Linked DNA regions of Homo sapiens: region 2 is linked to region 1. The links come from fine-mapping of genetic effects on gene expression. A gene starts in region 1. The other region holds a variant in brackets. All regions are shown on one strand. Distances are between the middles of the regions.

Region 1 (15,832 bases):
AGCATGAGAATGAAATGCATTCTTTTTCTAATCATAGTCTCATTATTTACCTGTATGCTAAACAACTGATTGAGTTGGTGTCAAGGAAAAAACAACCCTCTACCTGAATGAGACAGATCTTGGCGGAGACTTTCCATATATTCTTGAAAAGAATGTGAAGTCTGCTACTGTTCAGTGTAAATAAATACCAATTAAGCCAAAGTGGCTGCTGCTATTATTTTGATCTTCTGTGTCTGGTGATTTTTTTGTTCAGGTGTTCTATCAATTGTTGAGAAAGGGTGTTCAATTTCCCCACTTTGATTATGGAAACATCTATTTCTCCCTTTCATTCTGTCCATTTTTTTTCATAGATTTGGGGCCTTATTATTGGGTGCATATGCATTACGACTTTTATATCTGCCTGTTGATTGACTCCTTTTCCCATAATGAAAGCTCCTTTTTAGATCTCTTTTTCAAGTTTTGTTTTTGAAATCTATTTTATCTGAAATTAATACACTCACTTCAGCCTTCTTACGCTTACAGTTTACATGCATTGTTTTTTTTCCATCCATTTACTTCCAACTGATCTGTGTCTTTATATTTAAAGAGTGACTCTTATAGACAACATAGAGTTGATACTCTTTTTAAAATCCATTCTGACAACTGCTTTCTTTTACTTGTAGTGTTCATTGATGTTTAATGTAATTCTTGATTTAGCTGGGTTTCCTCTATCATTTTATTTTTGTTTTCTGCCTGACTCCTCTGGTTTTTGTTCATCTGTTCCTCCTTCCCCATCTTTTAAAATGACTTGAATACTTTTTCTTAGAATGCATTTAGTTTTAATTTTTCTGTCAGCAGTTTAGCTATTCTTTGCATTATTTTTGACAGTGGTTGTGCTAGGATTCCATCATACATCCTTAACTTTTCACAGTCCATTTACAGTTAATCATAGGCCCTTCACATAAAGTATGGACATCTGGCTTCATTATAGCCCCGGAACCACCCCCATCCCTTAATAACAGTTGTTGTAAGTAATGCATCTACATATGTCATGAGCCCCTCGAGATGATGTTACAATTTTAATTTTAAACAGTTAAAAGTTTATAAAGACAGTTTGAGGGAAAAGGCAAAAACAAAACACACAAAACAAAAAGAATCCATCCAAGAGTCTTTTGCCTTGAGCCAGACATTGCCCTTTTCCAATGTTTTGCCATTGTTTTCTGGGGAAGGAGGTTTCCATCTGCTATCACTGCCCTTCAGTCTGGCTTGAGACAGCTCATGGCCCTGCCTGCTCCCCAGGAGGCGTCTCCCTGCGGCGTCTCCCTGCATGGCCTGTGTGTTCGGTGCAGCCAACGCTACATTGAAAGTGTTTGCCTTTTCTAAGTGTCTATGGTGACAGCCTCTTTATCACCAACACATCCTTTTGGCAGGGGTGGCAGTGGTGGGGTACCTTATGTACAGAGCAGTGAGTTGATCCTCTGCCCAGTTCTGAGCAGACTGTGGTGCCCATTTCTTGGTTTCTTTTCACTTATTTCCACTTTTCCACTTCATCCTAGATCCCCATTCCTGGCCCCCTCCTGGAGAAGGGGATCCAATTCCGATGTACTTGATTCATACCCTTGGATGGGGACGAAGCCTCCAAAAATGTAGTGGTGCCCATCTGCTTCTTATGTACCCACCTGGAATTATGCTATAGAACTTGCCCTCCTCCTCCTCCCAAGACCCAAGGCCTCCTAAAATCTGCCTGTGGAGATGTGTGCAACGCAGTGCACAGCTTCTATGGCTCCATGGTACTCTACAGTCGCGTCCTCCACATTTCACTTACATCGTCCCTAGTGAGGGAAACCCAGGTTGCATCAGTTCCCCACTGCTGCACACGACATGGCAATGACCATCCTTATCTATGCCCCTTAGGTTCTGAGTAGGGATTTCTCAGAGACAAACAGGACACACACACACACAGAGAAAGAGAGAGAGAGAGAGAGAGAGAGACCGCAGCCTACCTTCGGGTCCCTGTTCTGGGCCCTCTCACTTCCTACTCTCCAGCCACGGTGTGGGGAGCGGGCAGACCCTCCCTCAAGCCATGCAGTAATCCTCCCACTAGCACCTTGTCTTTGCTCTTCTAGGAGGAGGTTGGCAAGGAGCTCTTGAGGGTCTTGCCCAAAAGGCACTTGCTCTACCCAGTCTGAAGATGACGCAAACAAATCCTGTCTAGGTGTAGCCCTCCTGGGAAAGTTCAGCTGAGGCTGCCAGCCCTGGAAATTCAGGGGACTGGGATACAGGCCATGGGAGCCACCCGGGGCTATGTACAAATGGGATGGAATTTCCCACAAAGTGCAGTGGTAACTGTCTCAGCGACTTCCCTGGTGTGTCCTGAAACGTACAATGTATCCTACATTTACCCAGGCTCTTCCTGGGAGCAACTCTTTGTGCAGGGACTCTTCTGTGGGTAGCCTCTGGGGGGCTTTTAAATCTGGCTTCTTGGTTTGAACAAAAGATGGCAGAGAGAGAGGGAGAGAGAGAGAGAACTCTGGATCAGAGGGTGGGCACTTACTTAATTCCACCAAAAAGTTCCTGATTGCTCTCCAGAAAGGCTGCACCAGTCCCCATGCACCCCAAGGAAAGTACTCTCATTTAGCTATATTTTCACCAACAAATGGTCTCACCCAACTTCCTATTGTTGCCAGTGCTCCAGGTGTAGGGCTGTGTCTCAACCTCATTTTAATAGGCATTTCTCTGATTACTAGCGTATGAGTGTCTCTTCATGAGCTTGGTAGCTATTTGGGCTCCCCCTTCTGTGACCTATCTGTTCCAATCCTGTGCCAGCTCGCTGGCTCCTGCCTGGCTACTCTACTCTCCCTTCCTTCCCTGTCTGTGATAACTAGTACGCCAGGTTGGGCTAGGCTAGGAACCACTGAGTCTCTTGGGATGGTTTTGTTCGTTTCTGCTCTGACCCATTATTTGAATGTCACAGCTTAATGCCCAGGAGGTGAGGGTACTGTCCTTGTTTCCAAGTTCTCTGGTGGGGGAGCACCTGAGGATTTTTCCCCCAGGAAACACCTACACCTTCCCTGTATCCAGCAGTTTCCATTTTCCAGTAACAGAGAACACCTAATGTCAGGCACTAGGCAAGGCCCATCCCACTTTCTCTCTATAACTATGCTGGAGGGAGGGACTGTTATCCTGCTGGAGAGACAGATAAGAAACAGGTATGTAAAGGTCAAGTAGAATGACCAAGGTCATGTAACTTGTAAGAGACCCCACTAGGATGCTGTCTACAGCTTAAACTGTTAGTGCATCTCCAGTAATGTCTATTTCAAATAACTGCTATGTCCCAGGTGGCTACTTCCTAAATAGAATTTAGAAATTATCATTCTCAATTATTGAAATGTAATGAAAAAGTAAACTCGGGTACCACCTTTGTACCTCCTCAGTCCCCAGTGTCTAAAAAAGGTGCAAGTGAGTGGAGGGAGAGGAGGGAGAGTTACTTTCCTCTAGAGAGGAAGTAACTCTAGAGGAAGTAATGTTTCTTTGAGGGTTACTCAAAGGAGGAAGTGAAGTAAAAAGGAGAAGTAACACCTTCATGAGGGTTTATAAGGGAGGGGCCTGTCTGATGCTGGACAGCATGCTTTCCTCCATGAGGAAATAACTAGAAAAGAAGAGGAAGCGGAAAGAAAATGTGCAAAGGCCCTGGGGCAGAGAAATGCTGAGAGGAACCACTGTGGCCAGAGGGGGAAGGCGAGGGCTAAGATGTTTGAGAAGTGGCCGTGGAGGCTCTTCAGGCTGGAATGGCAGGACACTGAGTGTATATGAAGATGTCCCGAGCCGTTTGAGACCCTCAATTTTCATGTCTTCCATTCTAAAGCTTATCTGGCTGATATGGACCTGGGTGGGGACATGCACATGCTCCTGCATGGCCTCCCCTCTCCACAGTCTCCCATCTTCCCCTGGGCAAAGAAAGGCTCCCTTCCTATCTAACCTGAGTCTGACCCCCTTCCTGTATACAGTGTCCTGAGGCACAAAAACATCCTCGGCACCAAACAGAGACACTTTTGGTGTCTCTTTCAGCAAGACTCCAAAAATCCCCTCTCTATCCATCCCTTAAGTAATGCACTTTTAAGACAATTTTCCTTTTTATGTTTAATAATTATTTATCAGAATACATATTTGTGTATGATGTCTTGATCACTTAAATACCATTAATCATTGTTATAATCACATAATCCTAAAGAGAATTTTAGAGCCTTATTAATTAATCATTAATTAATTTTTGAGGCAGGGTCTTGCTCTGTTGCCCAGGCTAGAGTGCAGTGGTGTGATCATGGCTCACTGCAGCCTTGACTTCCTGGGCTCAAGTGATCCTCCCACCCCAGCCTTCCAAGTAACTGGGACCCCACGTGTGTACCACGATGCTCAACTAAATTTTAAACTTTTTTGTAGAGGGTCTCACTATCTTGCCCAGGCTGGTCTCAAACTCCTGGCCTCAAGAGATCCTCCCACCTCAGCCTACCAAAATGCTGGGATTACAGGCATGAGTCACTGTGCCTAAACTTTTTTTTATACTTTCAACTTTTGTTTTGGATTCAGGGGGTACATGTGCAGGGTTGTTACACTGGTATATTGAGTGATGTTGAGGTGTGGGGTATGACTGATCCTGTCCCCCTGGTAGTGAGCATAGTACCCAAGAGTTAGTTTTTCAACCTTTTCCCCCCTCCCTCCCTTTCCCCTTTAGTAGTCCCCACCAGGGTCTGTTGTTGCCATCTTTATGTCCACGTGTAGAAAATTTTAAAAAGCTAATGCATATTCACATATTTATTGTGGTTCACATAATAGATAGGTGATGAATACAGAATTTAAACAATAAAAGCATTAGGGTAGGATACAATTCTGTTGGAAAACGGAATGGAAACATACTTAAAAGGGGTAAAGAACACAATGTAAATATTTTGACTGTTAAAGGGATACTTGTTTATATTCTTAAGTATAACATGGCAGTTTTGTATTCTTATACAAATTCCTTTGGGTATATTTAAAAGAGAGAGATAATAATTTTATACATAAAGGTCAATAAATACAATATACCCTATTTAAATATATGATTAAAAAACTCATTTTAGATGCCAACTTGAAAATGTGTAAGGCAAACATATTGTTAAACATTTTTTAGGGGGTTTCAACAAAAAGTCTGTTATAGGCCATAGTGCTCTAGGGGTGGTGACAGTGATCCGGAGGCGGGAACGCCGGGCTGGCATTGTCCCTGGAGCCATCTACATCCAGCTGGCTGGGCTGGAGTTTGGTGTGGCTTCCAGTGTTCACTGCTATGATGCTGCTATCAGGTCAGAATGTCAGCAGGGATTTGTCTAGGCTTTACTGTCTCCCCAGCATTAACCATAGTGCCTGGCACGTAGTAAGAGCTCAACACATATTCAGCGCATGAATGAGGGGCCGGCACTTACGGAGCTCTCACTTTGTGCCAGGCACTGTGCTAAGAGCTGCCTATGCATTCCCCTGGAATTCTCACAACCACGCTGCAGTAGGTCCAGTGAGTATCCCCATTCCAGAGATGGCGAAACTAAGCCACAAAGAGGATACATAACCAGCCCAAGGCCACCAGTCAAGGAAGTAGCAGACTGGGACCTGGGCATCCTGGCAGGCACCCTTTACCATAATGCCTCTCTGTCCCCATGTGGTCCCTGGGGTAGAGTCTGCATCCTTGGGTTCTGAAACTCCAGAGCAAGCACTCTGGGGCACTCCCTGAGTGATACCCTCCTGCCATCTTAAACGGCTCTCTGCCATCTGCTTCCTCCTCCTAAGTGGTTTTCCTTCTGTCCTCCCTGTTTAATGTTTAAGTTGTGCACATCCTGTGACATCCTGGAGACCCATGTTCCTGACCTACTTACCTATTCAACCATCTCTTCTCACACATGGGGTAGCAATGAGAAGCACAGGGGGTCTCTGCAAGGGAGTAGGGAGGTGGAGAGAGCGGGGGCAGCCACACATCACACTGCTGTTCTCAGTGGCCTCCTGCTGTCAACAAGCTAACATTAATAAAACAAGCCCACTCTTCTGCTAAGAGACTGTGACAGGGTAACATTTATTCTAGGTAGCTTTTCAAGAAAACAGCTCTTGCTCCCACGGTCCCCTCGGAGGGCCTGCAGAGCTCCAGCGATGTCAGAGGGCATCTGTTTGTTTCTCCTTTGCTTATAAAAGGGACCTGGAAATCAAAGGCAGGCTCTTAGCCCTTAGCAGTGAGGATGACAGCTCTGCACCAGCCACACGCAGGCCCCTGGCTCTAGGAACCACCTCTCACCCAGACGCCCAGGCACAGCATGGTGGGGAGAGAGTACAGGACACAGGGCCTAGGCCTGCTGCCCCGCCCACAGCCCGCCCCCTAGCCCTTTCTCTGAGGCCAGGTGTACTCACCTAGCCTCCAGGGTCCCCTGCTCAGGTGGCCCCAGAGGCCCAAACCCACTGCTCCCACTTTCTGAGACCTGGGACCCTCACCTCCCCAACTCCCACCATAGGGCGACACTGAAAAGTGTCCCCTTCCCCCCCCCGTTTCCAAGTCACCAGCTTGAGGATGCCCAAGGCTCAAAGGCTCCTCCGAGTGGCACCCCGCATCGGGCTGCAGAGGTCGGAGAGGGGAGGGGATGGTGGGTGCAAAGGGTGGCTTCTTCAGGAAAGGGAAGCCTGTCCCTGGCTCCCAGCACCTGTCACCCCTGGCGATCTCACCCCGCGGCCATCATTCCCGTCCTCACGGCCCATTTCAGGGACACTGAGGCTCAAAGAGCCACGTGATTTATTCAAAGCAGCTCGAGCCACCACTTGGAGCCACAAGAAAGCCCTGGTCCGTGCCTCCTCGCCTTGGTCCCTGGCCCTTCACTCTTCGTCCAGGCTCTCTGACCTCTTTCCCTCTGCGCCCCTGCCTCTTCCCCAGGCCTGGGTCCCCAAGGCACTCGGCCACGCGCTGGGTCCGGGGAAGAGGCGCGGCCGCGGCCGAGGCGGGGACAGGGAGGCGGCAGCCCCTCCTGCGCAGCGACGGCGCGGGCGGGCGGAGGCCGGGGCGCCCCAGCCCCCCGCCCCCGCTCCCTCCGGCCGTGACGTCAGAGCCGGACGGGGTAAACTGAGCGGCGGCGGCGGGGCGCTGGGGCGGAGACTGCGACCCGGAGCCGCCCGGACTGACGGAGCCCACTGCGGTGCGGGCGTTGGCGCGGGCACGGAGGACCCGGGCAGGCATCGCAAGCGACCCCGAGGTAACACGGCCCCGGTTCCCTGCTCGCAGGGCGCGGTGCCGGAGGGGAGCGGGCCCGGGGGAGGCAGGGAGGCAGGGAGGCCCCCAGAGCTACGCGGGCGGGGCTGCGGGGACCCCGGGGCAGCCGGGGCGCAGGGCGCAGGGCGCAAGGTGCACGGGGCCGAGCGTGCAGTTTGGGAGGTGGCACAGTTGGGGGCGGCGGGGATCAGGGCAGCGTCCTGGGGGTTCTAGGTTGGGTCTCCAGATTGGGTCCCCGACGGCGCTCGCGGGCGCTCTTTCCAGGGAGCGCGGGCTCTCGTGGGGACGCGCTCGAGGCAGGTGAGCCGAGGCTGGGGCGCCCGGGGGTGTCCCCGGATGCCGGTGCGCGCGGCTCCCTGACCCGCCCTTCCGCGGCCTGGGGGACGGGAGAATGGGGGGTCCACGGCCGCCTTGGGTCCTCACCGCGCACCGCGCCCGCAGCGGAGCCCCGGAGCCATGGCCCTGAGCGAGCTGGCGCTGGTCCGCTGGCTGCAGGAGAGCCGCCGCTCGCGGAAGCTCATCCTGTTCATCGTGTTCCTGGCGCTGCTGCTGGACAACATGCTGCTCACTGTCGTGGGTACGTGCGGACAGGGCACCCCTGCCCCGGCACCCCAGCCCCAGCGCCCCTTCCCCGGCACTCCACTTACCCCTGCGCGGTCCCGGAGCTCCGCCAAGGCCCGGGAAAGTTGGAGAACTCGCTTTGCAAAAAAGACATCCCCTCCAGGCTGCCGCGCCGGGGCTAGGAGGAGCCGCGTTGTGTGGCTTCGCTTTCCTGATGCTCGGGTCAAAAACTGTGACATCCGATAAGACCCAGAACTTATGTTTCCCCCTGATAATTTCCCGCATCCTCTTGCCTGCTTTCACTGCGATGAAAAAGATTTCTGTTCCAAAAGAGAAATTCCTAAAGTTCAAAATTACGTGTTAGAATAATTATTGGGCTACTCGAAAAGGCAGGTTAGTAATTTGGTGTAGTACCTAAAAGAGCAAGTTTCGATCCCTTACTCCAAAAACAAGACATTTAGATATACTGTATTAGTGAATGACTTGAGATGGAAATATTTCAGGAACCATTGCAAGAACAATTTGAACAATCTTGGTTCTATTATTTTTCCTATAGTGGAATTTTGAAAAATTAAATAATCGAAATCCAGGTCCCTTAATTAGGCCCATTAACAGAGAAGTATTTGGCATGCATTTCCTTAAAAAAAAAAATCCCAGTTTTTAATGAATGAAAAAAAAATCACGACTCATTTAGACTGTAAGTGGTGGGAGCTGTTTCCTTTCTCTCCATTTGCAGGTTTTCTCACAGCAGTTTTCAGAGCATCTGATAGGTTTCATCTCGAGGAGTTATCAGAGCCGTGGAGCTCATCCCTGTTCAGTACCAACGGCATTAGTTCTGCTTCGGCTCGAATGCTCCATTGGACACATGTGCTCACAGCTTCGATTATATGTTTCACAATTTAATTTGTATTTTTTGTTGTTGCTTTTTATTTTGGTTTTTGTTTGTTTTTTTGAAATGGAGTCTCACTCTGTTGCCCAGGCTGGAGGGCAGTGGCACAGTCTTGGCTCACTGCAACCTCCACCTCCCGGGTTCAAGTGATTCTCCTGCATTAGCCTCCCGAGTAGCTGGGTTACCGGCATGCCCCACCAAAGCTGGCTAATTTTTGTATTTTTATTAGAGACAGGATTTTGCCATGTTGGCCAGGCTGGTCTTGAACTCCTGACCTCAGGTGATCTACCCGCCTCGACCTCCCAAAATGCTGGGATTACAGGCCTGAGCCACCGTGCCTGGCCTGTTTCAGTTTTGCTTTTTCCTTGTGAAAGCCTTAGGAATTCTTAAATCTTACAAGTTGTAGGAAAAATTACAGATTCCCACTCATAATAGAAGGATGAAGTGGGCCTGTTGCAGAATTTCCAAGTTATTACTTCCTGCAGGTTAATTTTTTTCTAAGACACATAATGAAGTGTAGTTTTCTGTTTCCTTGATTCATTCATTTGAAAGTCTTTTGAGCCTCTCTTTCTTAGAAGCACTGGTTGACTCCAGGTCAGCACTCTCTTAACGTCAGGCCACATTTTGCTTTTCTGAAATATTCCTTGAAGGAACAATGTGGAAGAAACCCACAAATGACAGAATCTCTGGGACCAGTCAGTTCAGCACAGCAGCTGCCTTTTGAGAGGAGACAGTTCTCAGGGCCGTTGGGGGCATGGTTCTTTCTAGTGAGCTAAGTAAAGTGAACTTGCTCCAATGTCGTTATAGACATATGGCACAGGGCTCCTGTTTTGGGGTAGACCTGTCACCCTCTGGACCTCTTCTGGCATTTGACACAACCATAGTTTTGTTGTTGTTATTGTTGTTTTGTTTGTTTGAGACAGAGTCTCACTCTGTCACCCAGGCTGGAGTGCAGTGGTGCAATCTTTGCTCACTGCAACTTCCACCTCCCAGGTTCAAGCGATCCTCCTTTCTCAGCCTCCAAAGGAGCTGGGATTACAGGTGGGTGCCACCACGCCCAGCTAATTTTTGTATTTTTAGTAGAGAGAGGGTTTCTCCATGTTGGCCAGCCTGGTCTCGAACTCCTGACCTCAGGTGATCCACCTGCCTCAGCTTCCCAAAGTCCTGGAATTACAGGTGTGAGCCACTGCTCCCTGCCGACACAACCATAGTTTTTTGCTGGCTTTTTTCCTGGAGAGGGTTTCAGTGTGATCACCACCTTGCCATTCTGCTCTTATCCCCAGTCCCCATCATCCCAAGTTATCTGTACAGCATTAAGCATGAGAAGAATGCTACAGAAATCCAGACGGCCAGGCCAGTGCACACTGCCTCCATCTCAGACAGCTTCCAGAGCATCTTCTCCTATTATGATAACTCGACTATGGTCACCGGGAATGCTACCAGAGACCTGACACTTCATCAGACCGCCACACAGCACATGGTGACCAACGCGTCCGCTGTTCCTTCCGACTGTCCCAGTGAAGACAAAGACCTCCTGAATGAAAACGTGCAAGTTGGTCTGTTGTTTGCCTCGAAAGCCACCGTCCAGCTCATCACCAACCCTTTCATAGGACTACTGACCAACAGGTAGGGCAGACTACTTTAGTCAAAGAGTTTGATATTTGTATCAGTCCTAGCTTATGTCCTTCCTGGAATTCTGCTTCTTACTCATTGGTGAGAGTCTGGAAAATCCATGGTGGGTGAGCTGGGGAAAACCCAGTCCCCTTCCCCTATGTCTCTGTTCCCAGATAACCACAATTTCCTATTCTATTCTCCCTTCTGTTGCTCAACAAGTAAGAAAATATTAAAGAAGACAGAATAAAGAGGACCTCTTCCACCAAGTGGGAGGACTTTGGCCTGTCTAAATGCCAGGTTTCGTAAGTGCATTTGTCAGAATCGCCCTTGGCAGCAGGAACTCTACAGCCACCATGGCTGTCATCCTATTTTATGAGCCATGTGGCCTCCTCTTATCTCCTACCTCAGGCCATGCACTTCTCTGTAGAGAGCCAAGGTGTCTTCTTTTGGAACTGGCATGTTAAAGCCTCTCACAGATACCAGGTAGGGAGTGTGGGAAAAGGTTGGACGCACTGGTGCGCAGATGGAGCTCCGAGTTGATGCCGAGGTCATGGGCTGTGTTCTTCCCTTCTGCTGGCTACGTAGCCACGTCCACGTGCATGAAAGGAAGAGAACTGAGGCTGTTGTCTGGATAATCCAAGCTGCCCAAACTAGCTTCAGATGAATCAGGCTGTTCTAGATTTTTTTGAACCCACATTGTTTGGAATAACTGTTTACTTCTCCATTGTTGGTGAAGTGTTTGTTCTTCTGTAGCTGAGGTGGACCAGTTCTGCCTGGTCCGTGGGGGCTCAAAGCTCAGGACAAGGGCCTTGCAGCTGAGAGGAGGAGGCAGGCCCCCAAGGTGTCAGTGCAAGGAGTGGGAGCTGGTACAGTTAAGTGTTGGTGGTGGGCTGCCAAGTGCGCAGTGTAGCTACCTAGGTGAAAGTTACAAAACACCAGAAATGGTGGGGAGGGGTGTGCCCAGAGTCCTACCTGCAGACCAGGCCCAGAAGCAGGAACAAAGACTAGACTAGAGATGGAAGAGATGGTGGCGAGGAGAGGGTGGAACTAAGGAGGCAGGGGAAACCAGGGCTGGGCTAGGCTGTAAGAGGCCCCAAGTGCTGGGCTGAGAAAGGAGTGGGATTCTGTGTGGGGCAGTTGGGAGCCATTAGAAATTCCAAAGCCAAAAAGAAATGAGTGAATCAAGCACTATTTTAAGCAGGGTAGGTGGGCAGGGAGCAGGGAGAACTTCACATTTCCTCTGCCTTTGGCGTGGGGAGTGGGGCGCAGGACTGGCTGCATAATTTGTGGGTCTCGGTGCAAAATGAAAATGTGTGCCCCACATTCAAACATTATGAAACACTTCAAGGTGGCAGCAGAGCATTAAATCAACCAAGCTCTGAGAGCAGAGCCCTGTGCGACTCTAGGGTTAGGGGCACCGAGAGGTGAGGAAGCCTGGGGTGGTGGCTGGGGCTCAAGGAGGGGATGGCAGATCTGGCCTTCCGCCAGCACAAGCTGCCTTGGACACATGGAGCTTGAGTCGGACAGGAGCACATTCTCAACATCTGCAGTTGAATTTTCTGGATGGAAGGGTGCCATTGAATTGATTTCAACAATCTCAAGCCATGTCCAGCCCTCTAGTCTGTGCAGAGCAATATTCTAAGGCTGCTACATAAAACATGCTAAGCAAATTAACCCAGCGAAGGGCTGACTGTGAGCCCATTAAGAAGGTGACATTCAGTGACTCCTCTGTTCTCAGGAGAAAAACCAAACCGACCTCAGTAGTTGCAGGATTGTTTTCTTTCCTTTTTTCAAGACTAAGAATGCTTCTTAAAATGCATCTGGTATAATTACAGAAAATAGCTCAGGGTTTTGTATTCTGAGAAAGCAAACAGCTCAAATATTGTATGTGAAAATTGAGGACATTATCGTAATAATACCTTGCCAATCACTTGGGTGGAACGTTACTAGCCGTACAGTGTAATACTTAGAAATTCGGCTGAAATGATGTGAGTACTCCAATCTTCCAAACGCAAATGGCAAATGAAAAGCTTTTTTAAAAATCCCATTCTTATTTTTAATGCTTTGCTTATGCCATGGGGAAGAGGCTTGTTTAAAACCAGTGAGCTCTTTCCCCTGTTAAATACTCCAACGGCTTTGAGGCTGTAGCCACACCAGGCTCATGTTTGGGACTTCAAAAACATTATCTTCCATTTTGTGACTTGTGAAATTTAGTCTATTCTCATGGTGAGTAATCCACTTTAGAAATTATCTAGAGCAAAATTGTAATCCCCAACTGTTTTGTCCAGCTACCGAGCAAATTTGAAAATGATTTTCTAGTGCTGCCTGGTAATATGGAAGGACAAACAAATTTTTTTTTCTTTTTTTTTGAGATAGAGTCTTGCTCTGTCACCCAGGCTGGAGTGCAGCAGTGTGATCTTGGCTCACTGCAACCTCCACCTCCTGGGTTCAAGCAATTCACATGTCTCAGTCTCCTCAGTAGCTGGGATTACAGGCGTGCACCACTATGCCTGGCTATTTTTTGTATTTTTTGGTAGAGACGAGGTTTCACCATGTTGGCCAAGCTGGTGTCGAACTCCTGACCTCAGGTGATCTGCCCACCTCGGCCTCCCAAAGTGCTGGGATTACAGGCGTGAGCCACCGCCCTCAGCGAGCAAATAAATTTTCATATTGTGATCCTGATTTGTAATTTGTCTCATAATTTCCAAGCCCAGTAGATATGAATTTGGGGACTGGGCAGCTCTTCTGGACACTCCAAGATTCTGCTTCCCACCGCAGTTCAGATGGATTCAGAGAAGGGACAAATGTGCATTCCATTTGCCTTTAATTGTCTTCAAGGAGTTAACTTGTGAGCCATTGCAAACAGTCTTTTGATGTAAACTGTGCCAATCACATCCTCCATGAGCAAGATGTATGACTCAAGTCTTCAGTGTTGTAAACAAATGTGTTTAAAGGCTTTTTAAAATTGGTTAATATGTTTCTGATTAAAGAGTAGTTAAAAATATGGAGCATCAGAGCTTGCAGAGACTTTTCCTGAAAGCTTTTGGGCCAGTCCTAGCATTTTATAGGCAAAGGAGTTTGCAGTTCAGGAGGAGAAAGCATTTACCACAACAGTGGCAGGACTGTAGCCACATGTTCCGACTGTCCCATTTCAAGCTTTGTTCTTCCCCGCTTCCTGTTCTTCCCACCTGCTTACAATTATACAGCTTGTACCTTTAGCTACTAGAAATAAAGAATGCAGCTCAAAATCTGTCTTTCTTGCACTGACTTGGGCTCTTCCTGGTTGTACCAGGCAGAACTGCTGGAGACCCAGTGAGTTGCTGATTTTGCTACTTTTAATCAATGAGCAGAGAGTTTAGAAAAGATCAGCCTGATTCCTGTGGACATGGAACCTCCCTGGTCCCTGAAATATTCAGTCTTTTTCCAGTCCCTGATGTGAACTGGTCCAGCCTCGTGCATCCCTAAAGATGTGTGGGGAAAGCTTCCTGTAGTCAGGCTGGGCAGAGCTATTCTTTTCCAAAGCTGCTTGTTTTAACTGAAGTGGGACCCACTCTGAATCGAGACATTCTACACCACACCACACCATAACTGGAATCCTCTATTCACAGTCGTGATGGTGCCATGTGTGTGGCTTTTGTGGGTAGGAGTCACAAAATGTAGGCCGCCTGTTTATTTATTTATTTATTTAGACAGGGTCTTGCTCTATTGCCCAGGCTGGAGTGCAGTGGGGCTATCTCGGCTCACTGCAACCTCTACCTCCCAGGTTCAAGCAATTCTCCTGCCTCAGCCTCCTGAGTAGCTGAGACTACATGCCACCATGCCTGGCTAATTTTTTTTGTATTTTAGTAGAGATGGGGTTTCAGCATTTGGCCAGGCTGATCTCGAACTCCTGACCTCAAGTGATCCTCCTGCCTCAGCCTCTCAAAGTGCTGGGATTACAGGCGTGAGCCACCATGCCCGGCCCTGTCTGTTTTTTTTAAATATTCGATAAGTTCTCACACCAAACCCTGAAAATATAGAGTAACAATTCTTGGGTTCATTTAACTGCTAATAGGATGCACATTCTTCCTGTTTCATTTGTTATTCAGATCCTGTATTTCTGCTGAAAATATATGACCAGTTAGGTGGCAAAAACCTTTGATTTGGGTGTGTGTAGTGATGACCTGGCCAATAGCACACTTTCCAAGAAAGCCTGAGGTTGCTGGATTGACCTGATTTCCATGTTGGAACCTCTTGCCTCCTATTTTATAATTTTGGCTGAACTATTCATTTCATGATTGCAGTTGTGTGCAGGTGGTACCAGAAATTATACTAGTGATACTTGGTCATCATTTGGTCTAAGAAGCAAATTTTAGATATATATGTCCATAAGAGGAAAGTTCCAGGCACATGAACAATGGGACAACACGTTTACATTTCTCTCTTCCCTCAGTCAGGTAACGATATGGCATTGTGGTCTTGCTTAGCATAAGGTTGAAATAATAGTTGCATCTTCAGAACCAAAAGATATTCCACACCAAACGACTGGCTTGGGAAAGAGTTAACTTCATTGCTGGGGACCGTTTCCCTTGCTTCCTTCTTAGCTTGTCATTGTCTCAGTGATCTGCTTTTTATCAAGCCAGCGTCAATGGCTTAATTTATTTCCATAGTTACTTAGTATATTTGAAAGCAGTTCTTTTTGCTTGCAAATCTTAGCTAACATCTGAACGACAAGGAGGAAGCCACAGGGCATGAAATCTCTACGAAATCTACCATGGTTTTATTTTATTTTTTTGCTAGCTTCAGCCAGTGGGTCTGAAGTGGGCTGTGTAGGAACAAGCAGTGACCTTTTCAGCTTCTCTATGGACAGGGAAACCGGCTGTTCTGAGAAGAGATCTCCCATCCTGCATGTGGTTAGGATGGTAGGGAGGGCTTGATGAGTCTTTGCTTCTGAAATCAGAGGAAACTGGCTGTGGAATTAGAACATTCCTAGGAGAAGCAAAAGCTCTGTTAAGCTATGTGTCAGAGAACAGGGCTCACGCCCAGGAAAGTGAGAAGTCCGTGCCCCCTGGAATTCTCTGGTAGCTGAAAAAGACAAGCAGAACCTAAGAATTTTGACAAGCGGAATCGAAGAATTTTATTTACTAAATGATTGACAAACCTCCTACTATATCCAGGCAAATTGAAAATATCATTCCATTTACTGACATTCATTTACTGCACACCTTTTAGGAGTGTGTAGGGATCACTGGAAGGGAGCTGTTGTCTCTCGTTGCATCTGGTGATAGTTTGCACCCTTCGGGGCTCTGTAGTCTGTATGCTTCTTGTAATTTACCACGGTAGAGGAAACTGTGGTTTTAGCAATCATGAGAAGAGAGCTTCCATTAGTCTCTATGGCAAGGATAAGCTAATTATTAACACTAGAGAAGTATTGTCTTCATTGACCATTTAGGGACAGATGGGGTTTCTCCAATGACTAAGTATATATAATTAACATAACTTTTATTGTTTTACATGTTTTTCTAGGGATTCATTATGTG
Region 2 (12,843 bases), 27 kb after region 1:
ACCTCCTGGGCTCAAGCTGTCCTCCTGCCTCAGCCTCTCAAAGTATTGGGATTACAGGCGTGAACTGGGTCTCCCGGCCACCTAGCTGAACTCTCATCCTCTTTGAATGTGTCCTGGCCATGTGCAGGACACTTAAGATGTTTTGTGCTCATCCTCTTCAGACAAAGCCTGAGGCTTTCTTTATAAAATCTTTAAAGTCAGCCAGAAGCCATGGGCCATCAGGGGCAGATAGCAGAGTGCAGGCTGCCTGGATCTCATCAGATTGCTGTGTGGGGCCTATCACCGGCGCCAGACGTTCACTCAACCCGCTTGCTGCACATTTCCACCACCGAGGTTCCTCCTTTCATTTGCCCCAGAGATAGACATGTCTGTCTTTAAGAGAATCAGGTTTCTCTACCTGCCTCCTGTGTCAGCACCAGCAGGAGGGGAAATACCCCACCTTCCCTAGTTCTCTGTAGCTTTCAGCCCATGGCTCCCTGACCCTGGGGATGGGGTACTGTGAGTGAAGCAGTGCGGAGGACCCAGTGCTGAGGGCGGGGAGCTGCCCCTGCAGCCCAGACTCTGGTGTTCAGGAATCTTCTCTGAGCTCGCTCCAGTCCAGGGTGAAAGGGAGGCTGTTCTGCCTTTATGCTTCCCTTCACTGTTTCTGGAGAAAGACTATGATATTTGAAGTCAGGGCAAACAATCTTATTAGCTGCATGGGTGACACAGGATTGCTCTTGCTGAAGGCATTGTTTTTGGCCACATTTTTTAGGGGTAGTAAAGATGGCAGCCTACCCATCTTCCACGTCGCTCCCTTGCCAGCCTGCCCCCCAAATTCCTCATCTGCCACTTGAGGGGAAGCCCTGGGCTTGAGTGGGTGGAGAAAGAATGATTTCATGGTGTTTTCTCTATATCTGAGTTCTAGGTCAGATGGCCTCTCCAGACCCCTTGAGACTTAGGGACTTACAGTTTGGGGTGAGGCCTACAAGCCCCCAAAGGGAAACTGAAGCCCTGGACAACAGGCCCCAGACAAGGATGGAGGCACACTCTTGTCTTCTGGTTCTTCTAGCCCCTTTGTATTTAATGAGCTGTGGGGATGCAAAGTGGGATGGAGGGTAGGACACGGGCCTGTACCAGAAGACAAGAGGGACTGCCAGCCTTCTGTGGCTCTGGGGTGCGAGGACTTAGGATCCTCCTAAGCCTGCCATAGGACAGGGCAGACCATTGCCCCTATTCTGGTTCTAGGCCGAGCCCTTGGCCTTCAGGGAGGGGTCATCTTGAGCTTGGAGGAAACCCAAGGTCTCATTTCCACCTTTGCTTCCGGGGCTGGATGGCCAGCTCATCTCCCCGCAGGCTTCGTGATGACCGGAGCCCCTCTCTCACTGGCTGGCCAAGGCCGTGGCTGAAGCCAGATTGTACCAAAATGTAGAAGATCTCCCTTTGGTGAACTTTCTGGTGTGAGCAGAGATATGTGAAGAGTGTTGCCCCGCAGAAGGGAGGGTTCCTGCCATGGCCCAGGGCACTGTTGCAGGCCAGTCCCAGCCAACACTTTTCTCAGAGTCGGGAGAAGCCCTAGAAAGAATTCTTGCTGAGGCTGGGTGCGTGGCTCATGCCTGTAATCCTAGCACTTTGGGAGGCTGAGGCAGGTGGATCACTTGAGCCCAAGAGGCAGAGGTTGCACTAAGCCGAGATCGTGCCATTGCACTCCAGCCTGGGCAACAGAGCCACTGACATTCTGCCTCTATTGAGACTCCACCTCAAAAAACAAACAGGATCTTCCAATACTGGAACTGCAGTCCCTCAGGGGAGTGAATGGCCACAGAGAGTGGCGTCTGCCTTCTAGATGGAGTCTGGGCCCTCTGGGTCACCACAGATCTCTCTTTGCTCCATTTTTCATTTTATTTCTCTGACACTGAGGCTGAATGTCAGTGGTTCTTTATCATGGTATCTGCACTGTTATTTCTGCTTGCAATTTGCTTGTTTTATTCATTTATACCTACCTGGCCTTTGGGGATTCTTATCATGAGACAAATGTTGTCATGATATCTTACTATCCGGACTAACAGTCCCTAGAGCTGGTAGGAAGTCCTACGACACAGCTTTTGAGGCCAGGTTTATATACCATCTGCTCTGTGGAGCTTGGCCAGACGCAGTTCCAGGTCCCCAGAGCATGACACCTGTGTTTTTGTTATGTTCCTTACTTGGCCAGGTCACAGTTTAAACGTCATCTGCTCCTTTCCTTCAAAACACTTGCGTCAGGACAAGAATCACGTTGTCATTGTCTTTGCTGCAGGCCACTGCTGTGCTGGGCACGTGGCTGTCAGTAAATGTTTGCTCAATCAGATTACACTGAACAATTATTTGACCACCACATATTGCTAAGCATGACAGAAATAATTCTCTGGAAAATGAAATGAGATTGCTCTTTATTAGTGTTTCCCAGAACTCCCATGTCTAGAATGATCTGGTTTTGGATTTAGCTCATGGAGCCATTTATTTGGAAGTCCCTGCTGTGTTGGAAGACTCAGCCTGTTTCTGGGTTTGATGGTAGACGTTCGTGCTTTATCCTAAAGAGACAAGATCACACTTGCCCGTGAGTGTGTGGCCAGCTGCTGGGATGAGAAGGACCTCCAGGCCCCATGCATTTTGAGTGTAGCAGGCACTCGGTCATCTGATATCTACCTGCATGTCTCACTTATGCAGTCCTCTGATTGAGAACAAAGTAACTTTTACTATGTGTGGGCAAGGCTTGGAATCAAGTCTGGTATATCTGATTTCAAGGAAAAAATACTAAAATCACTAGGAGTTTGAAAAGCAGTCACTCATAAAGAGATTGTCCTGTGGTTCTGAGGACCACACACAGCTTGGATGGATGAGGACCAGACACAGCTGATGTGGACAATTCCCCTGTAGCCAAGCTGGGTCTGATAATGGTTAGGCCTTTCTGTTCAATGCGGAGGACAGGTTCAAGGCCACTGCTGCCACCACCAGCAGGGAATCACCCTGGGCACATCAGAACCTGGGGGATGCAGGTGTCCTCTATGGGGACAGCAATAAAACTTGGATAGGAGGCCGGACGTGGTGGCTCACGCCTGTAATCCCAGCACTTTGGGAGGCTGAGGCAGGCGGATCACCTGAGGTCAGGAGTTTGAGCCCAGCCTGGCCAACATGTTGAAACTCAGTCTCTACTAAAAATACAAAAATTAACTAGGCGTGGTGGCGCATGCCTGTCGTCTCAGCTACTTGGGAGGCTGAGGCAAGAGAATCACTTGAACCTGGGAGGCAGAGGTTGCAGTGAGCCAAGATCGTGCCGCTGCACTCCAGCCTGGGTGACAGAGCGAGACTCCATCTCAAAAAAAAAAAAAAAAAAAAAATCTGACTTGACAACAAAAAATGACCAGGCAGACATTTATGTTTCTGACATAGAAAAATGTTCATAAAGCTAACTGAAACAAGCAGGATAGAGTATAATCCCTTTTTTTTGTAAATCAAAACACACATAAATATATTTATATATGTAAATAAACTTACAGGAGAAAATAACTGTGGTGATTATCTGAGTAATGGATGGGGTTTGGGGTAATTTTAACATTTTTCTTTTTGTTTATCTCACGGTTCCCTAATTCTTTCAATGACTGCGTCTTACTTCTGTCGGATGAAATCACACATAAGATTGCAGGTGCTGAGCTCCCAGGCAGGAGCTGTTTGTATTGGCCCACGTGTGAAGCCCACCACCAGCCAGAGATGGAGGCAAGATGAAGCAGTTGATAGAGAAAGGACTTTCATTTCTGGAGTGTCTCAGCAGCTTTGTGTGGAGGATAAGCCACGTGGGTCCAGACCGGATCCGGCAGGCGCCGGATATTAGCTGCTGGGGTGTGGGCCCCGGGGCTTCGTTTTATCTGCTCTCATCAACATTGTGGTGTCTACAGTTATTACT[T/G]TTTCTAACATATGACTGATATCAGCACTGATAAGGTCTCCTTTTCATAAATTTACAGGCGTTGCCTTCTTGCCAGCTAGTATCTCTTATCTCATTGGAACCAATATTTTTGGGATACTTGCACACAAAATGGGGAGGTAAGATGATATGAAAACAACACTCATTCTGTTACAATAATGTAGTTCTTTCAAAAAATTCTAAGTTGTTTCTGCCTTTGCTGTTACAAGTAATTGTTTTGATTTTCATTGAAAATTTGGACTAGAAAAAAATCAAATGATCATTTCTTGATGGTGCTTTTTCTTTTGGTAGGTGGCTTTGTGCTCTTCTGGGAATGATAATTGTTGGAGTCAGCATTTTATGTGTGAGTAAAAGATGGCATTTGACAAGTGGGAACAATCTGTGAATAAAACTTGCGCTTTGGGCAAGAATCACCAAGAAACATTTTACGTTTGAGTTTGTTGATGTTTTATTACAGCTTTCATTTTATTCTAATTTTTTATCATCTTAAAAATGTTTGGACAAGACTTTCCAAGGAGTGTATTTTCATTTTATGTCAGAAATTATTTAAAATGTTTTATTTCACAGTTTAACTTTTCCCCTGCATCATCTTAAGCTTGACAGTGTCTTAAACACTTCAGGACAACCAACCTGAAACAATAGCAAGATGTTTTTCTAGAATAAAATCTCTTCTACCAATGGCCAATATCCATCCCTCATGAGGCCTACTTGTTCTTGTCAAAACTTGAGGGTGGACTAGGCTGATCTTTCACATATGCCGGTGACAAGTTTTTCATGGTGGTCATAAAACTCGTTTCAAGCTTTGACTTTTAAAGATTTGGAGGGTCCGGTTCTTCACAAACCCCACCCTTCTTCCTCCTGTTTTCTTCAGAAGGGAACAGGCATACCACGCTCAGAGAAAACACAAGTTCAAGACTTTCCGAGATGATTTAGAGTTGGATCTCTTGTTATTTTAGCATAATGTTTATTTCCTCTTACAGATTCCATTTGCAAAAAACATTTATGGACTCATAGCTCCGAACTTTGGAGTTGGTTTTGCAATTGGTAAGTCACACGAACCTTGTGCCTACATTTAAAACCGCTTTTCCACTAGGAAGGGTTCTTCTTCCTCTGGTAGACTGTAGTTCCTCAACCTAAATTTCCAGAATCTTAGAAGGAGGCTGCAGGCAGCTTAGCTAAATTACAGCCTGTCGATTCTCCGTGTAAAGACACCTGCTTCTATGCACTAGTCATTTATTTCCTGAAAACCAGTATTTTTTAAAAGCTGATATTTACAGAAGGAAACTGATGCTCCACTGCTGGGGCTGGGCAAACAAAGGAATCCCTTGCACAGAGCTCATTTTTGTGGACTCCTCCCTATGAGCAGGTCTTCTCATGAGGCTGGGGGCAAAGGCTTCACATATGTATTTTGAAGAGGTTTTAGTACAGACAAAGCAGACTAATGTGTTGATGACCGCCTGTGCTGCAGGAATTCCCATGGGCAAGGAGATGGGCTTTTGTAATGTTAAGAATGATAATATGTTAGGAAAAATCTGTCACTATTTTGAGTGAATGGTATACTTTTGTCTCTTATTTATAATATACCAATTGATCATGATAAAAATAAGTGCTCAGTCCACCCCTGTAGAAGCAGGAACGCAACCTTTGAGTGGTACAGTGGCACAGCATGGCTTTCACTGAGGACAGATGGTAGAAGGCTGCTGAGGCTGGGGTAGAACTCAGTATGGTACTCTAGGTCCTTCTCAGGTGACCGTTTGCCTGTCCTCTGCCTTGCCTCCCCTTGTCCTCCACTGTCTGGTTGGCCCATCTTTTTAGGGAGGGTGCTAGTCCTCTGGCGGCTCCCCTTGCCATTCTGCAGGTCTGGCAGAGTTGCAGGTTGCTAACTGTACGGCCCCTGGCCTGCATCCTTTTGGTGCTTCCCTGCTTTGCTGTTTTCTGGTTCACTTGTCCCTCACCACTCAGCACACCTGCATGCCTGACCCACCTCCTGCCAGTCACACCTGGGCCACACGCTTAGACTATGGGTGTTTCCAAGGTGGAGAATAATAGGGGGGACCAGAACGCCCCAGAACTCCAAGGAGTCCGAGAGATCATCTGGCCCTGCTCAGAAATTATGTGTGTGTATGTATGTTTATGTGTGTGTGTGTGTGTATGCATGTGTATCCATGTATGTGTGTGTTGTGTGTATGAGTGTGTATGTGTGTGTTGTGTGTATGTGTGTGAACTAAAAGAAGCTAAAACACACATGCACACACATACATACACATACACACTCATACACAAACACACACATTCATACACACAAACACACATACACACACTGACACACGCATACACACACACATACACACATACACCCCCCACATAAACACATACACATACACAAATATACATACACACATATGCATACATACATACACGTAGATACACATACACATACAAACACCCACCCACATACATATGCACACATACACACATACATATACACACATACACACACACCTACACACATACACATACACACACATACACAAATACAAGTACATACACAAACACATATACACAGACACATACACATGCAAACACATGTACACACATATATACACATACATACACAGATACATATATACATATACATAATACACATACACACATGCATACACACATATACATAGACATACACAGATACATATATACATATACATACATACTCATAAATACACACATATACATACAGACATACACCCCAGCAACAACCACGACCAGCATTAGAATCTCGTCTCTTGAATAGTGGGGAGCAGGTAGCATAAAGATGGTGTGTGTTCAGAGTTCCTGGCTCAGACTCCCTGGCTCAGTGAGTGTGGTCAAGCCTCGCCTCTCTGAGTATTGGTTTCCTCATCTATAAAATGGGGATGCTCATGATTGGCTGCTGTGAGCCAGTGTCTGTGAACACACTGGCAGGGACTCAGAGGTTGGTGCCCTCCCCTCCACATGTGTCAGTGGCAGGCACATGAGGAAAGTTTCTTTCATTGAAATGGTGCTTGCTGCTTCCTAATATGTACAAGTGCTGGGGATATGGGTGAACAAAACCAACAGAAGAGTTGGGCATTTAGCAAAGAATTGAAGAATGAATGACAATTGAGATGATGCTGTGAGAGAACATCTGTATACGAGGGGAACCTGACCTCCTCTGGGGGTCAGAAAAGGCTTCCTTCATTCTTTCTACTCAAAGATTAGTATCACCCCAAGACTTGCAGGTGGTGATGACAGAAGGGGAAGAGCTGGCAGGGTGGTGAGTTTAAGACACACTCCCTGATATTCGGCCCATTTTGGGTTTACATCCGTTTTCTATACACTGTGTTCCCTGACTGTCTTCAGGAATGGTGGATTCGTCAATGATGCCTATCATGGGCTACCTCGTAGACCTGCGGCACGTGTCCGTCTATGGGAGTGTGTACGCCATTGCGGATGTGGCATTTTGTATGGGGTATGCTATAGGTAAGGACATTGGCTTTTCATAAGAACCTTTTACCTCAATACGTAATGGATAACGTCTACTAAAATTGTTTAAATCTTTGCATCTTTCAGTCTACAAGACATTTGGAAGAGCTTTATCTAATTCTCTGTTTCCTGAAAGGTCCTTCTGCTGGTGGTGCTATTGCAAAGGCAATTGGATTTCCATGGCTCATGACAATTATTGGGATAATTGATATTCTTTTTGCCCCTCTCTGCTTTTTTCTTCGAAGTCCACCTGCCAAAGAAGAAAAAATGGTAAGAAAAATTTAGGATGCAGTGAGCATTTCTTGATAATTTTAGCATGGCCTTCCTGATAGCTTCCTCATGGTTTCATTCTAAAGCCTTCAAACATAAATGGTGAGAATTCCTTTTTAGTTTGTACCACATAGAGCAGTTACTTCTTTTATTTTTTTATTACTGTGAAAGTTATTTCTTTCAAGCTTATGTTTATAAACTGGGAGAATGAAATTATTTTTGTACATAGATTAGCATCAGTGTTGCTCTTTTGTCGACCAAGTATAAACCTGGAATCATTCAATTTGATTTTCTATGGTTCTTGAAAATCTTGGACACAATCTTTCTGCCTCCTGTACTTATGCCCAAGGTTAGCCATTTGTGGTGCTGTTGCTTTTCTCATAACCCTTACAGCATTCAGTAATAGTTGCTGTCTTGTCTTTACTGTATGTAGGATTTTAGAGATGATTTTACGATTTTTATGGAAAAATCATTGTATATGGACTTTGGGGTATATGTGAACACACAGAACGATTTAATTCATAACTTTATGACCAAAATTATAGCCATAGGCAAGATACAGAGTATAAAGCATCCCTCTTTTGAAAAAGTCCAAATTAATTGATTCAAAATTTGAATTTTGAAATGCATGAGTCATTTTAACCTTTCTAAGGTATTTACCTTACCCAGCAAGGAGACGCTCAGTGTTTCTGATCATCTTTCTTATCTGGTGTTGCCAGTTTTTAAAACAGCAAATGCTGATAGGTACTTGTCCAGGTGAAAGGAGAGTGTCTTGGATTAAGGATGAATGAGGTGAACAAGAGGACATGCATTTTTGTGTTTGAATAGATGTGAGGTTTGTTTGTAATGTTCTCTTGGAAGTACATCAGAAGGTCTTTCTGACAGTGGAACTGAATGCATCTTAATGCTTTGGCATTTCCTGAACTGCCCTTTGATGCTTTTCCCCAAAAGGAGATTTAAAGACAAACCTTAAAATAAGGTTATGTGCAGCCTGTGTTTGTCTTGGGTGTTTTTTACATTCATTAATTCATTCCACATATTTTAAAATATATCAAGCACTGGGCACTGGCCTTGTGCCCTTTATTTTAAATAGGATTTAACTAGATACTTTTGAGTAATGCATGGCCCGTCTGACTCATGGAAAAGGTATGGAAGGTGCTGTGGAAATAACTCAGACAGAAGCCATCCCCTTGTCCTTCCCTCCGCTTGCTTAGATGCTTCCCCAGCTCTGAAAACCACATCACCTTCTCAGACCTCTCTTAGGAGACATCTGCTTTCCAGCTTGGGTGTGTAAATTTCAGATGCATCTTTGCTTGGCTGACCCTAGCATAATACCTTGCCGAAATGGAGTCAGAAAATTCTCAGCACAAATGCAAACTGCCATTCTGTTGCCATGATAACAGTTTAAGGCTGAATGGAGGTTACTCAATGTTTTTGACCAAAAAAAGTATATATGTGTGTATATGTGTTTGTGTGTGTCTGTGTGTGTGTGTATAAAATCACCTACAAATGCTCCTGTAGCCCAGGAAACTGTTTGAAGACTCCTGGGAGATAGTTAGGGCTAGCATGGGCCTGGGAGCCACACTGGCCCCACCATGTAGAGGCTTATGAGTCTTGGTTTCCTCCTCTGTTGCATGGAGAAATGATAACGTCTACCTCATAGGATTGTTGTGAGGATTAAATGAAAGAATCCCAACAGAGTGACTGGCCCTGTGGCTCAAAAAGTGTGTTCCTATTTCCAATATCACCCCACTCTTTCCTGCTTATCTAACTCTCTGGCTTCCCCCGTCAGTCCAGCAATACCTGAATTTTCTCCCTTTTTCCTCCTCTGTGATGTGAGAGTTTCCTTTTGCTATACAGACCCCAGAACTCCTGAATGGGCTCCCCTTGCCAAGCCGGCAAACATCAGTGGCTGTTGTGATGTCCGTTTGTGAACGGCAGCCTGATGGCTTATCTGTGGCCTTGGGGAAATGAATGAGGTCAGAGGATGAGCAGAGAATGTGCTTGCCCAGCCAACTACCACTGTGTTCCGCAGAAGGACTGGCAGAAGGCAGGCCTCAGTACCCCTCCTCTTTCCCCATTTAAACGAATACTTCAGTTCATGTTTTAAAAAAATGCTGAAGGAAGTGGAAGAGACGATCCTGAAAGGCCAAACAGTAAGAATTATAGGTTTCCAGGAAGCCACTTTCACTGCAAGATGTTACAATCCTTAATAAGCACCTAGCAAGATAAATCATTAAAAACTTGAGAAGGTGTGCATCTCGCTGCCCATCAATGATGCCCATAATTGAAGGCATCACATTGGATGCCATTTGACTGGCCTAATGGTGACATTTGAGAGTGGTGGCCAGCAGTTGCTGCCTACTCATTGTGCAAGCAGAGCAGGAAGCCAGCGGTGGCGGCCGACAGCACCTAATGATAAGGGGGCATGCAGGCAGGACAGCAGTGTGTGAGGGAGGAGGAAGAATCAATGACCATGCAGTTGAGAAACCCCAGAGCAGACAAGTGCTGGCGTTCAGGATGAGCAGTTGCCAAATGCTGGGGGATGTGAGGGCCAGAAGGCATACGACCCTTAGCAAATCATTCTTCCATTAGACAGCATCCTGATAACAAGGTGTTTGGACTTAAGCTGTTTTATATTGTAAGATATAATGCTGTTTTCATGGATCACAAGTGACAGAATCATGAACTAGTTTATAAGCATGTGAGTTTGTCTTCCATTTGGTTTACTGGATTTCTGTTTTTTATAATCAGCATTATCAGTATAGGTGGAGGAAAAAAACTGTTACTCAAGTCCCTCTGCACATACAGGAAATATCAACATTACCATTTGAGGAAAAGTGTCTTATAAGACAGTTACACGGTAGCGCTTCACTCTCAAAATTCCCAGTTGAGAAGAGCTGTGTTGCGGATTTTTTTTTCCAGGTTGAAGAATTATTTTTAAAGACAAGTCACGCTTCTTAATTTTACTCTTGAAGTTTCTAATTGTTGCCAAGACAAGAAATTAGGTGGTTTGAGGATTGCAGCTTTCTTTTCCTGGATGGCTCTGATAGTTGTTCCATAAAGCCCTTCCAGCAATAGCTCTGTTTTCTGGATGCCATGCGTGGGGCAAGGATGGGGTGGCCCGAGGCTGCTGAGATAGACCACATTCTGCATATTCTAAGTTGTTTATAGAATTTGTCCCTTTGCAGGTATTTAAATAGTGGGTGCAAAACCATCATTGCTTTTCTAGTTATGTTAAAGAGAATAAAACTTTCCTACTCAGAAGGCCCAGGACCTATCATCAAAATCTCAAAGACTGGCACTCTTATCTTTTAATGCTTTTATGGGTTCACTACCCCAGCTTTGTATTACTTATACTTTTCATTTGGTCCACCATGTTGGTTTGTTTGTACCACTTAGGAGATCCTAACTCATGAAAGGGGCATTTGGAGGGGCTGGGGCTCACCTCTCAGTAAGAGGGCTTTGCTCTGAATTCAAATGCCAATCCTCTCCTATTGATTTTCTCTTTGGTTGAGAGTCAAACACACCTTCCTCACCACAGCAGTGTGTGGAGAGCAGATTTAATTTACCTGCCTGCACTGCGGCCGCCCTACTTGTTCCCCGGGCACCTGACTGACCTGCTTGATGCTGTTCATGCCTTTCTTCATGGCACTTTTGAAACATTACATGCCACCTGGCTTATTTGTGTATAACTTTTTTTTAAAAAGTACAATTATTGCACAATAGATCTTTCAAGAGAGGTTTGGAAGCCAGTGAGCTAGGTTTTAAAGGCTACAGAACATTTAAAGGAGGAAAACTTCACCTGAAACAGGCTGCTAATAAATATGTTTTTGGTGAATTGACAAATGCTGGTCAGTTAAGTATGCATGATGCCAAATAGTCTGACTGAACTGCTTTTCCTGCAGTGCAGTTTTTTGTTGCGTTCCTATCATGTGCCCAGTCCTAGGTTCTGGGGTCCTTAAGATGACATATTCCTACATTCAGGTCTAATGTGGATGAGCCAAGAGATGGAAGGCAATTAGGAATAAGGTAGTGATGACCGTTCTTTATAAGGTGACCTGCCTGCCTGGGAGCCGTGCAAGGATCGAGGCCCCATGCCCTGCATTCCAGTTGGGTGTCCCAACTGGTATCTCACTGTGCCTCCTCAGCAGACCTCTGTGGTGGCCAGGCTGGCTTACTTAGTGTCCTGCTTGGTAAATAACTCATGTTTTACTCATTGCCACCTCCCTTGCTGTCCAAACCTTTTCCATCTTTCAAAGTTTACCTCAACTCCCGCCTCTATAGGATAGCGTTCCCTGGGCACTGAACCAGCAGTGAGCACTCCACCTGGGACCCTGGAGTCCCTGTCCTTGCCTGTGCAGGGAGGTAACTAAGATGCTGGGATAGGACCTTAAAGGCACTGAGATGCAACACCTAGTAGGTGTCCCGTCAGCTGTTGTCAGCCAGATGACAGTGCTGTAGTCTTAGATAATGCCATGTAACTAGGGCAGTGTTTCTCAAAGTTGACACTGTTGTCACATGAGGACAGGGCCCTCAAATTTCATTTTTTAACCTGCTCCATCTCTCCACCCCTACATTTCCTTGCGAATCATTAATCTGGGGGAGATGAGACATTTATTGTTAGGGGGGTTAAACCTTTGTGTTACATGGGGAGAACGGTCCTGGTGTACAAAGTCTAGTGCCGCCATTATTTTAAAAATTGAGCTCTTTATTGAATACAAGTATCAATTCACTTGGCAAGCAGCATAAAAAACAGTTAAGTTAGAAGCTGACAGGTTGAGCTGGCAGCCTAACTTAGAGGGTCAAGGAAGTCCTTATCTTCACATGTTACACAGATCACTGGATAATGTCTTGGGAAATGATAAATGGGTTAAGCACTGAGTCGAGTCTTATCTGGGGACAAGAGCTGGGAGTAATAGCTAACAGACAAGATGGGTTACAATAGGCCAACATCAGATACATTTTAATCTATTTAGATTTGCAAACTGCAAAAAAAATATTGGGGAGTAGTTCACATGGAGAAAAACTCAAGACATACCTGATAATTCATTTTAGTTGCACATGACGCCCCCTTGCCATCCTCTGTGCTCATCTAACTACCACGGAGTGCTGCAGGCGGCTCCTGTCTGCCC

What was found. PIP is the estimated chance that this variant, and not a neighbour inherited with it, causes the effect.
Region 2: its variant is fine-mapped to the expression of SLC18A2 in blood mononuclear cells (TOPMed, PIP 0.97).

The regions. Positions count from the first base shown.
Region 1 is chr10:117,233,989-117,249,820 of GRCh38, forward strand. SLC18A2 (solute carrier family 18 member A2) reads left to right here and starts at 7,126. Exons shown (of 16, transcript NM_003054.6): 1 at 7,126-7,232; 2 at 7,691-7,826; 3 at 9,983-10,325. The coding sequence starts at 7,706. It overlaps SLC18A2-AS1 (SLC18A2 antisense RNA 1), which reads right to left and starts at 8,009. Exons shown (of 3, transcript NR_184310.1): 1 at 7,897-8,009; 2 at 7,673-7,795; 3 at 4,777-6,193.
Region 2 is chr10:117,262,756-117,275,598 of GRCh38, forward strand. It overlaps SLC18A2 (solute carrier family 18 member A2), which reads left to right. Exons shown (of 16, transcript NM_003054.6): 11 at 3,978-4,056; 12 at 4,229-4,280; 13 at 4,918-4,981; 14 at 7,316-7,435; 15 at 7,575-7,708. Among named protein-coding and RNA genes, the nearest start is that of SLC18A2-AS1, 27 kb to the left of the region's middle. The variant T/G (reference allele first, on the strand shown) is at 3,920.